Linked DNA regions of Homo sapiens. The protein of the gene in region 3 interacts with the protein of the main gene of each other region in a pairwise test. Each region holds a gene or a part of one and is shown on either strand. Other genes may lie near its edges.

Region 1 (3,747 bases), on a different chromosome or scaffold from region 3:
TGTTCTAAGCACTTGAGATGTATCAGAGAACAAAACAGACAAAGATCTATTTGGGGTGGTAGCATGTACATCTGGTAAGATGAAACAGACAATAAACATAAGAAGTACAATTTATAGTACATTTAAGGGTGAAAAAAAGAAATAGAATTTAAAAAATAGAAAAAGTAGAGCAGACATCTAGTCATTCTCTAGGTTTCCCAGCTGCCCACCAATGAACAGCTACTACATATGCAGGCACAACAGGGGCAAATGGTAGTGTTTTCAAATAGTACACTTTGTGTGTGTGTGTATGTGTGTGTGTGTATGAGACAGGGTCTCACTCACCTGGAGTCACCCAGGCTGGAGTACAATGGCACGATATCAGCTCACTGTAGCCTCGACCTCCAGGGGGCTCGAGCAATCCTCCCACCTCAGCCTCCTGAGCAGCTGGGACCACAGGTGTGCACCACCACACCTGGCTAGTTTTTTGTATTTTTGGTAGAGATGGGATTTTGCCATGTTGCCCAGGCTGTCAAATACTATAGTTTAGCTCTCAATTCAAAACTTTCCTTAGCCATCTGCACTAGCATAGCAAATGAGATCAGCAGGACTTACAGACTTGATTAAAGCAGCAAGAAGCACAGTTTCATTCAGGGATAGGACAAAAAGAACAGAAAACTGGATTCCCAGCTCCAGGTGATCTCAGAGCAGCCATATCCTCAAAGCAGAGCTGGCAGTTTTAAAACACGGTTCCAGGCTGGGCGTGGTGGCTCAAACCTGTAATCCCAGCACTTTGGGAGGCGGAGATGGGTGAATCACAAGGTCAAGAGATCGAGACCATCCTGGCTAACATGGTGAAACCCCATCTCTACTAAAAATACAAAAAATTAGCCAGGCATGGTGGCGGCCGCCCGTAGTCCCAGCTACTCGGGAGGCTGGGGCAGGAGAATGGTGTGAACCCGGGAGGCGGAGCTTGCAGTGAGCCGATATCGTGCCACTGCATTCCAGCCTGGGCGACACAGCGAGACTCCGTCTCAAAACAAACAAACAAACAAAACCTCAGCTCCAAAATTATTTGATACTCCTTCCATTCAGAGATGGGGGTCTATGTCCCATTCCCTTTGAATCTGGGCTTTATGACTGTTTGGCCAATAGAACGTGGAGGAAATGATACAGTGCCAGTTTTCAGGCCACAGTCTAAAGGAACTGGTGGCTTTGCTTTCTGTCTCTTCTTGGGTACTCACTCTTGAAACCTGTTATGGGCTGAACTGTGTCTCCTCCCCAACCTCCCTGAATTCATATATTTAAGTCCCAATCCCCAGCACCTTATAATGTAACTGTTTTTGAAGATGAGGTCTTTAAAGAGGTGATTTAAGTTCGAAGGAGGTGTTAGGGTGGACCCTAGTCCAATACAGCTGGTATCCTTATATATGAAGAGGAAAAGACACCAGGGATGGGCATGCATATGGAGAAATGACCATGTGAGAACACAGCAAGAGGGCAGTCATCTACAAACTAAGGAGAGAGGGCTTTAGAATGAAATCAAGCCCTGCTCACACCTTGGTCTTGGACTTCCAGCCTCCAGAACTGTGAGGAAATAAACTCTGTTCTTTAAGCCACAGCATCTGTGGAATTTTGTTAGGACAGCACCACAGACTAATACAGAATCCAACCACAGTGCTGTGAGGAAGCCAACATGGCCCCATGGAGAGAAGACCCACATAGAAAGGCCTGATAGTTTGAGTGAACCATTTTGGCAGCAGATTCTCCAGACCCTTCAAGACCAGCTGATGCTGTGCGGAGCAAAGCTGAGCAAACCCCACTGAGCTCTGCAAAAACCGCAGGCTCATGAGAAAAATGAATGGCTGTTTTGGTTTTAAGCCACTAAGTTATTGGGGTGTCATGCAGCAACAGATAGTCAGAACAGCAAGAGAGATGGCTGAAGAAAGAAAGCTGAAGGGGTCAAAGCAGAGGAAGAAAGGTAAGAACAAGGACAGAGTTGTGAAGAAGATCCAGGATACACCTAGGATGCACGCCCATCAATGTCAAAGCTCAAAGGGCTTGCATTTCCACACAATTCCTACATGCATTGGAAATACCTTCACCCTAAAACAACATTTTTCTTGACAAAAATACACAGCCAGACAGTTGGCCAAAGGAGAGTCACTTTTGTGACCTAGCAGGAGGAAGCTAAGGAATACATGCTCACCATAAAGTGCTGAAAGAAGGTGGACTGTCATATTCTTTTCTACAGTAACGTTTCTTACTACAAAAATAATGTATGCTCATTGTCAAAATACAGATAAGCAAAAAGATAAAAACTAAAAATCACCTGTAAGTTTACCGCCTAGAGATATCTAGGTAGATAAATATCCCTTTATTCTTTATTTTTGTGAATCTATCTTTATATATTTTTTCTTTTTCAAAAATAGGTTCATAAACTACATGCAGGTTTACAGCTGCTGTTTTAACAATTTACGAATAACTTCTCATGTCATCTTCTATGATATAAGTTTGAATGGCTGCACAGTATTTTATTATATGACTATATCATAACTGCATTACTCAATCCACTCTTTATTGGGCATTTAGCTGTTTGTAAATTTCTTACTCACTGAATATCCTGTATGGATAGCTTTGCACATACCCATAAACATTTCCACAAAACAAATTCCCACAAATGGGATTGCTGTATAAAGGATATGCAAAATTCTGAGGCTGTGAGTAGCTATTGAAGTGCCTCTCCCAGAGGTTGTACCAGTTCATACTTTCAGCGCAGCACATGTGAGCAGAAATGCCCCTTACGTTGAACTGAGTACAAATTGTGGAGTTTTTGTTTGGTTTTTAGTTTGTCAGTTTGTCAGTTAGCCCATTTCTCCTTGATTTAGTCCACATTTTTCTCCCAAATTGATGAGGCTGAGCATCTTCATGTGTTAACTGGCTGTTTGTACTTCTTTTGGGAATCACCTTTTTATTGCCTCTAGACACAGGAAGTTTAGGGAATGACTACTTTGGAGAGAGAGAAAGAGAACAACAACTACAGTGTATGAAAGACACGGAAATGATGACAACATCATGGAATCCAGACAGACAAAAAGAGAGGTAGATCTGTTTTGATAGTGAATCTGTCCCAACTACAGATTTCCAGCGAAGAGGACGGTGCAGGCTGAGTTGGGCTTCCCTGATAATAGCCTTGGTTCTCAGGACCTGAGTAGGGATAGAGGTATACAAGAAACAGCTTGTCCTTCCTTCACGTCCTTATTTGTTACAAGGCATGGTCCAAATATCCCTATTGGTTTTCCAACCTTTATTCTACCAGTTCCAGTGACTTTAGCAATAGGCATCAGTAAGGGGCAGACAGAAGACAAGCACGAAGTAGGAAGGCAATTTCAAAACTGGGAGGAACCTTGGAAATCATCTCACCTGGTCCCCTCAGTTTAAAGATGAAGGAGTCTAAGGCTGGAAAGTCGAGATGATTTACCAGCAAGTGGTAGCGCCAGGAAGTGGTTAAACCGTAAGGGGATGCATTGAGGACTCAGGAGCCAGCTGGAAGGGTCTCTCACTGGCAGATACGGAACAATCCGAGCTTCCATGAAAATAACAGGTTGTAGTGTATTTGAAAAATACAATTTCCTGAACCCATACTGATAGGAATAAATGAATGATAAATAAGCTGTGAAGAAAGAAAAGCTCTTCCTTATAATAGAATGCCAACAAACAAATGTTGAAATAATGTGGAAGTCAGAGACTGGCTATGTGACAAACATC
Region 2 (3,747 bases), on a different chromosome or scaffold from region 3:
TTAGAGAGGATCGAAGAGGGAGGACAAAGGAATCAGGCACCTTCTCTCTCTCTTTTCTGGGGTAAATTTATTTTCAACCACAAAAGTAAAGGAAAGAAAAAGTCACAACAGATGAGTTATGAGCTAACTTTCTGATTTGCACATGTAAGAGAAAGAAATGAACTGGATATCATTAGACATTGAGAAAGGGAGTCTGCAAGCTAGCAATGTATCTTCGGCCTTTTTGATTTACACGTGTTTATTTATGAGTACCTACTGTGTGCCAGGCATGATGCTTGGTGCTGCCAATTCAAAGAGAAATAAGACACCTCCTTGCAAAGTGAGAAGGCAGAACTAGATTCAGATTCACCTAGATTTCAACTCTTGTGCTCAGGCCACCACCACCACCATGGAAACAATTTTGCTTGACTCTCCCGGCGCAGCCGCGGCAGGCGTGTGTGTTGTCAGACACTGCAGGAAGAGTGATGGCCTGGGTGTTGACAGGCTCCTAATTGGAAGGTAGGAGGTGCCACCAGAGATCAGCTATAAAAGATATCTTTGGACTGGGGTGGGCTGCTAATGCTTGGAAGAGACTTGTGGGTGAGGCCCGGTGAGCTGTCACCTCGGAATTGGGCCTTGCCCAGCAGACAGACATGCATGCGGGGGAGGTAGCTGACAGACAGGGGCGCATGGGGAAGCAGCCATTCCAGAGAACTGCAACAGCAGATTGCAAACCAGGACTTCAGGACTCAGAGGGGGACAAGGAAAGGAGAGCCTATAGTGGCCCCAAAGCCCAGGGTCAGAGGCAGGGCCAGGAGAGCAGCTGACAAGAGCTTTATGGTAAGGACAAAAGAGAAGACAGCCGGAGTCTCCTTTTATTCAGCTCATAAAGACCCAACTTCTGTGCACTTATAACTGTTCAGACCCTGAGGGGTTCAAAAAAAGAACCGTGTTAGGAGAATTCAATATTTAATTAAGAGATGATCAGATCCGTGCACCGAAATTATTGCTGGGTAAGACAATACTGTGTGTGTTACATAGCATTGGAACTTAGGAAAGCTCTTTCCTTGTGTTGTTTAATTTAATCCACTCAACAACCCTGCAAAGTGGGTACCATTGTCCCTGTTTTTTATGAATGAGGGGGTGAGGTGCTGAGAAGCTGTGTACGTTATTTGAGTTTGTCTGGCTAGTCAGTGGCTGAGCCAAGTTCCAATCCAGGTCATGTGAGCCTCTGAACTTTCTGATAAAACCTGCAGACCCCCTTAACTGGGATAATATAGTCATGCATTAAGCAAGAAGGAGAAGTAAATACAGGCTGATGGTGTAGGGGAGAAATTCAAAGGGAGAAGGCCTAGGAGGGAGAGGGAGCTATGTGTGAACAGAACCAAAGATGGCCTCTGGGAATTGGAAGGTCTCTTGGAATTCGTCCAAACTGAGGATCACAAGTCTCCACATTCTGAGTAGGAGGATGAGGGTCTGAGTTAGGATTTGGGTCCTGCAGGGCTTGCTAAGGAATCCCCTGATGGCCTAGGATTCCACGCAGAGCACATCTGGTGTGAGAGAGCTCGCTGCAAGGGTGAAGGCTCCGCCCTATCAGATAGACAACCAGGCCACCAAGAGGCCCAGCCCTCCAAACCCTGGATTTGCAACATCCTCAAAGAACAGCAACGGGCCTTGAGCAGAATTGAGAAGGAAATACCCCCACCTGCCCTCAGCCGTTAAGTGGGCTTTGCTATTCACAAGGGCCTCTGGGTGTCCTGGCAGAGAGGGGAGATGGCACAGGCACCAGGTGCTAGGGTGCCAGGGCCTCCCGAGAAGGAACAGGTGCAAAGCAGGCAATTAGCCCAGAAGGTATCCGTGGGGCAGGCAGCCTAGATCTGATGGGGGAAGCCACCAGGATTACATCATCTGCTGGTGAGTAGGCTTCATTAATTCTCTGATGAATGGACGATTGCAAGGGAACTTTTTTCATCTTCAAGGAGCCAGAAGAAGTGGTGATTAAATTGGTCTTTTAAAATAAAAAGACTCCAAAGGGGTACAAGTCTTCAAGCTTCCCCTGTGGTGTTCCGGGCACTCTGGCTTCTCTTTCGGAGGGAGGAAGAGCATCTATTCATAGGCTGTGACTTGGAGAGGCCCCACGGTGAGTCAGGCGCTTGCTGTGTGAGCCGCTGGTTGCTAATGTCTTCGGGAACTGCTAATTTACCCATCTAATTTGTTCCTGTACACTGGCCACAAAGGGAGACCACTCAATTATTCTGATCCAAAAGAGAGGCTTGTGTTTACCATGATCTCCCCAGCAACTGTGTGAGTGTGTGTGCATGTGTGTGTGTGTGTGTGTGTGTGTGTGTGTGTGTGTGTGTGTTTGCCTAACAACCTTAGGCAATGACGAAGAGGTGGGGCTGCTGCCCTTGTTAGCATTTTCAAACACATTCCAGTTCTGAGTTGAGGGCAAAGATTGTAATGGGGTGCTTCAGAGAAGCCTTGGCTCCCAAGGAGGTTATAACTTCAAAGGGTGTTTTTGAAAAACCAAGGCGGATGAGGAAAGTGGCTACAAGTTCCTTCCATCACAGAGGATCAATGAAGGGGAACAAAGATTTGGGAGCATCTACTTTGTGCCAGGTACTGTGCTTGGGTTTTACACGTCTTCTCTTGTTGACTTTGCATAACTCCCCTTTGAAGCAGATATTACTCCAGGTTCTTGCCGTAATGTTTCAGCTTAAAGAAAACCAACCCATACTTCTTTAGGTTGCCCTGAAAAGGTGAATCTTCTGTGAAGCCTTTTCTGTCTTTATCTGTTAAAATTAATTAAGCTCTTGTTTGTGCTCCCAGAAAATCACTTTAGACCTTAGAAAGATGGCAGCCTCAGTTTTCTCATTTGTAATATAGGGGTACCCATAGGGTCATTGTGAGAAATAATAGAAATAAATCATGGAAGTGCTTGGATAGTAGCTGGTACTTAGCCCTCATCAGTCATCATTGTCATTGTTGTTAAGAGTAATAATAATAATAATATCACTTATTATAATTACTCACCTCTAGGTTTTTAAAAAACTTACAGGCCGGGCACATTGGCTAACGCCTGTAATCTTAGCACTTTGGGAGGCCAAGGCAGGCAGATCGCCTGAGGTCAGCAGTTCAAGACCAGCTTGGGCAACATGGTGAAACCCTGTCTCTACTAAAAATATGAAAATTAGCCACGCGTGGTGGCTCATCCCTGTAATCCCAGCTACTCGGGAGGCTGAGAGAGGAGAATTGCTTGAACCCGGGAGGCGGAGGTTGCAGTGAGCCAAGATGGCACTATTGCACTCCAGCCTGGGTGACGAGAAACTCCATCTCATAAAAACAAAAACAAAAACAAAAAAACTTACATAAATTTATGGGGAACAAGTACAATTTTGTGACAAGCGTAAATTGCATAGTCTTGAAGTCAGGGCTTCTAAGGTATCTATCACCAGATTGATATCTATTGGTATCTATCACCAGATTGATATCTATTGATATCTATCACCAGATTGATATCACCACATTGTACCTATTAATTAATTTCTCATCATCCTCCCCCCACCCTTCTGAGTCTCCAGTGTATATTATTCCATACCCTAATGCCATGTGTTCACATTATTTAGCTCCCACTTATGAGTGAACAGTGTGATATTTGTCTTTCAGTGTCTGACTTTTTTAACTTAAGATAACAGCTTCCAGTTCTACCCATGTGGCTGCGAGAGACATGATTTCATTCTTTTTTATGGCTGAATAATATTCCATTGC
Region 3 (3,747 bases):
CATAGCAGGCCGAAGGCAGAGAACACCCAGTGGGCACCTGGCCTCTGTGGGGGACTAGGGCTGCCCAAACCCTAGTCACTGGCGTGTTTCTGAGCCCCTCACTCCTATCTGGGCCTGAAGCTCTAGCATGTGCGTGGGGGCTGGGTGACGCTGTGCTACCTGTGTGCGGTCCTGCCGGGTAGGAACACGCAGGCCATCCCCCAGCCTGCGATCGCACCGTTTGCCTGGTGCCAACTTCCCCCTCCCCCCACCAGCTGGCCCCCAGAGGCAGTGGTGCCAGCCCTGGGGGAGCCAGGAGGCCTGTTGCCATGCCAACGGCCCAGGCGGGGTGGGTGCCATGGTGACGAGCGGCTGGGAACTGCTCCTGGGGCTCGGGCAGGGAGGGCAGGGGATGTAAGGAAGCCAGGCCGGCAGGGCGCCGGGCCCACGCGCAACCAATGCCCCTCACGCTCCACCCCCGGAGGCAGGGATCAGCATCCCTTGGGCTGGGGGGTCTGGGCGGCCCTGGCACGGCCTCGCGTGCCCCTACCTGCGCCGTTGCGGTTCTCAGGGTGACTCTGGGACAGGTACTCTCCAAACGCTCGGGCTGCTCTGAGGGTGGACAGAGGGCACGGTCAGAGGCCACGGCACGACCCTCCCAAACACCGGGCCGCGCAAGAGCCGGGGGTCCGGTCCCCAGCCAGGCCCTCGGCGTCTGGAAGGAGGGTCGGGGTCGTCCCCCTCCGGGAGCCCACACACCCTTGGTCCTGGTGCGCCCTGGCCAGGCCTGCAGGCCCGGCCCCTGCCCGTCGGACCGTGGAGAGGGGTCGCGAGGCCGGTCGGCTGCTGTTCCCCGGGGGAACCGAGGCCACTCCCGACCTGGGGGGTGCGCTCGCCCACCACGCGCTCGCGAGGGGAGGGGAGGGAAGAGCAGGGCAGGGGACCAGGAAGAGGGAGGCGCGGGGCGCGGGGAGGGCGCCTCAGTGGCAGAGGCCGGGGCCCGGGAGCCCGGGGAGCACCGCGGGGCAGGGGCGGACTCGGGCGGGGTCGGAGGTCCAGGGCGGGGTGCGGGAAGGCGGCCCCGCCGCACTCACCGCACTTTGGCCGCCACCGAGGACATGGCCTCGCTCCTCAGCGCCCTCCTCCTGGAGGCGGCGGCGCCCATGGTCGAGGCGGCGGCGCATCCCCCGGGCCTCAGAGCGCGCCCCGCGCCCGCCGCCTCCGCCGGGGTAGCCGCGCCGCACCGGGGGTCGCGCTCGGGCTCGGGCTCGGGGTCTCGCTCGGGCTCCGGCTCGGGCTTGGGCTCGGGGTCGGGCTCGGGGTCGGGCCCGGTCCCCGCATGGCCGCACCCGGCGCTCCGCGCGTGCCGCCGCTCCCGGGAGAGCGCTGCCCGAACCGAGGGCCGGCCCCGCCCATCGTGACGTCAGGGCCCGGGCGGGCCCAGAGGGGCGGTCGGCCCCACCTACCGTGACGTCAGGGCCCCGGAGAGCTCGGAGAGGACATGTGGCCCCGCCCACCGTGACGTCCGGGCCCGGGTTGAGTTGGGGGCGGGGCCGGGCGGCCTGGCTCCGCGCCCTCTCGTCCAGGCCTCCAGAGCGGGGAAACTGAGGCCAGCGGCCCCCTGGTCGCAAAGTCCTGGGCCCTCGGCCCTCACGATCTGCTGCTCAGACCTGCAGGATCACAGGGAGGCCGGTTCTCCCTCCCCTTACACAAAAGGGCTCCCTGTGCAGTTTGGGAACTGGAAACCGAAGGGGAAGCCAGTTTAGGGGGCACCCAGTTTGCACGAGGCCAGAGAGAGACAGAGGGGCCCGTCCTGGTCCTGGGGGGCCACAGCTCTATGCAGACTCTGGACGCCCTACCTGCCTGGCCTGCATTTGCCGCCCTAGGGCTCTCAGGCCCCAGCAGTGGGGTCCTTTGAGGAGGACTGGGGACTGCCCAGCCTCAGGGACCACCCGCATCAGGGAGAACCAGTAGTGTTTCTTTGCCACAGGGACCTCGGCCCGGGAGACACGTCCAACAGTGAGATCCACCTTTATTGAAACATCACACGGCAGCATCAGGGCTCCCACACCTCACAGGGCAGCAGGCAGTTCACAGGACAGCAGGCAGTTCACAGGGCTTTGGGGGCCTCACAGGGCAGCAGGTGGTTCACAGGGCTTCGGGGGGCCTCACAGGGCTTCGGGGGGCCTCACAGGGCTGCAGGGGGTTCACAGAGCTTCAGGGGCCTCACAGAGCTTCAGGGGCCTCACAGGACTGCAGGGGGGCTCACAGGGCCCTGTATGCAGGGCTGCTGGTACAAAGAAGAGGCCCAGAGAACCCTAACACAGCCTGGGGCCCCGGGGAAGTCAGGGCTTCCAGCAGGGCAGGTACAGAGGCCCCTAGGACTTGGCAGGAGCCTCAGCCTTGGGGACAGTCCCACGGAAGACGCTGCATCCGGGCTCTTTAGCAGAGGCCTCTACCCGTCCTGGTCAGAGGAGCCCTCAGACAGTTTTGGGAAAGCCAGACTGGGGTGTCGATGCCGCAGTGAGGACTCGTCCTCCTGCAAGCAGACCGCATGTTCCAGGTGAGGACCAGGCAGGGCAGGGGCTCTGCAGCGCTGGTAACCCGGTGGGACCACAGGGAGGGAGTGGCCGGCACAGGGCCAGGCACCAAGGCTCAGCTGTGGGCACCAGGTGGGACCATGCCCAGCTCCTCACCAAGTCTGAGCCCTGCTGGGCTGAGGTGCTCTGGAAGTCTGCGTATGCATCCCTGGGGACGTCCAGCAGCTCCTCCTCGTACTCCGTCTGGTAGTCAGATTCGTCTGGCACCGAGGGTAGGGCTGCGTCAGTCCCCTCCCAAGGAAGGGACCGTACCCAGCATAGCCACACTCAGAGGCAGAACCGGCCACAGATGCCCACCCCCGCCTCCAAGGTGGCCCGGGGCCCTACACGCAGCCACCTGGTCCCAGGGCAGCCCTGCACACCACCCCTGGTTCTGTCTGGCTCCAGCTTTGCCCCAGCACATCACTTCGTGGGTCTTCCACAAGGACAAGGAGCGGGCAGACACTCCTCCCCTTGTCAGCCAAGCACCCTGAGGGCTCCAGCACCCCAGACCTGGCAACTGTGGATAGGGGCTGCCTTGCCCAGGGCCCTCTCGGCCTGCGGCAGCCATGAAGACGTCTCCCAGGAGAATGTCCAGTTCTGCTGTGAGGAGGCCACTGGCTGAAGGCCCAAGCGCAGGGCCCTGGATGGAGCATGGAGGGTAGTGGACCCGCCCTTCTTGTCCTGCGGCCCCTCCAACAAGCAGCCTTCATTCCCATTTCCCACTGGGTGGGGTGGGAGGCAAAACGTGGTTCTACTTCAGGCCTGAGGTGTGGCTGGGAGTTGAGGTGAATGAAGGGCAGGGGCTGGGTGACCCGGGGTGGTCACAGTCCCACTGCTGTGGGAACACGTGGTGCCCGGGACGGAGGAGTGCCACCAAGCACCCCAGCTGCTGGAGCCTGGGCGTGGACGTGGGCGGGAGGGGAGGCCGTGGGCCTCTGGGGTGGGGGGGTTCAAGCCCAACACAGCATCAGGAGGTCACGCACGTCTCCACGGCTTCGTCTTGCGCCTCCACTCACCATCCACCATGGCGGGCTTGGCGGGCTCAATGCGAGACACAATTTCGGCAAGGTCCGTGAAGGAGGCGTTGGGACAGGTGAGGACCTAGGGGTGGGGTGAGGACAGCACGTTGCCTGTGGACACCCGCCTGCCAGTCCCCAGCCTGCTTCCTGTGGGGAGGCCCCACCCA

What was found.
Region 1: the proteins of NSMF (region 3) and TTC23 interact in binary tests that used the Homo sapiens proteins (3 or more experiments, as listed by UniProt).
Region 2: the proteins of NSMF (region 3) and LMO2 interact in binary tests that used the Homo sapiens proteins (3 or more experiments, as listed by UniProt).

Annotation. Positions count from the first base shown.
Region 1 is NC_000015.10:99,221,982-99,225,728, forward strand, and holds part of TTC23 (tetratricopeptide repeat protein 23), read right to left. Parts: intron 3,566-3,747; exon of another isoform or gene 3,403-3,565; intron 1-3,402. UniProt on the Homo sapiens protein: Participates positively in the ciliary Hedgehog (Hh) signaling.
Region 2 is NC_000011.10:33,889,941-33,893,687, reverse strand, and holds the start of LMO2 (rhombotin-2), read left to right. Parts: upstream 1-1,611; 5' UTR 1,612-1,893; intron 1,894-3,747. UniProt on the Homo sapiens protein: Acts with TAL1/SCL to regulate red blood cell development. Also acts with LDB1 to maintain erythroid precursors in an immature state.
Region 3 is NC_000009.12:137,457,959-137,461,705, forward strand, and holds the start of NSMF (NMDA receptor synaptonuclear signaling and neuronal migration factor), read right to left. Parts: upstream 1,377-3,747; 5' UTR 1,145-1,376; coding exon 1,074-1,144; intron 592-1,073; coding exon 530-591; intron 1-529. Other genes in the region: PNPLA7 (patatin-like phospholipase domain-containing protein 7), read right to left, coding at 2,435-2,518, 2,676-2,779, 3,578-3,662. UniProt on the Homo sapiens protein: Couples NMDA-sensitive glutamate receptor signaling to the nucleus and triggers long-lasting changes in the cytoarchitecture of dendrites and spine synapse processes. Part of the cAMP response element-binding protein (CREB) shut-off signaling pathway.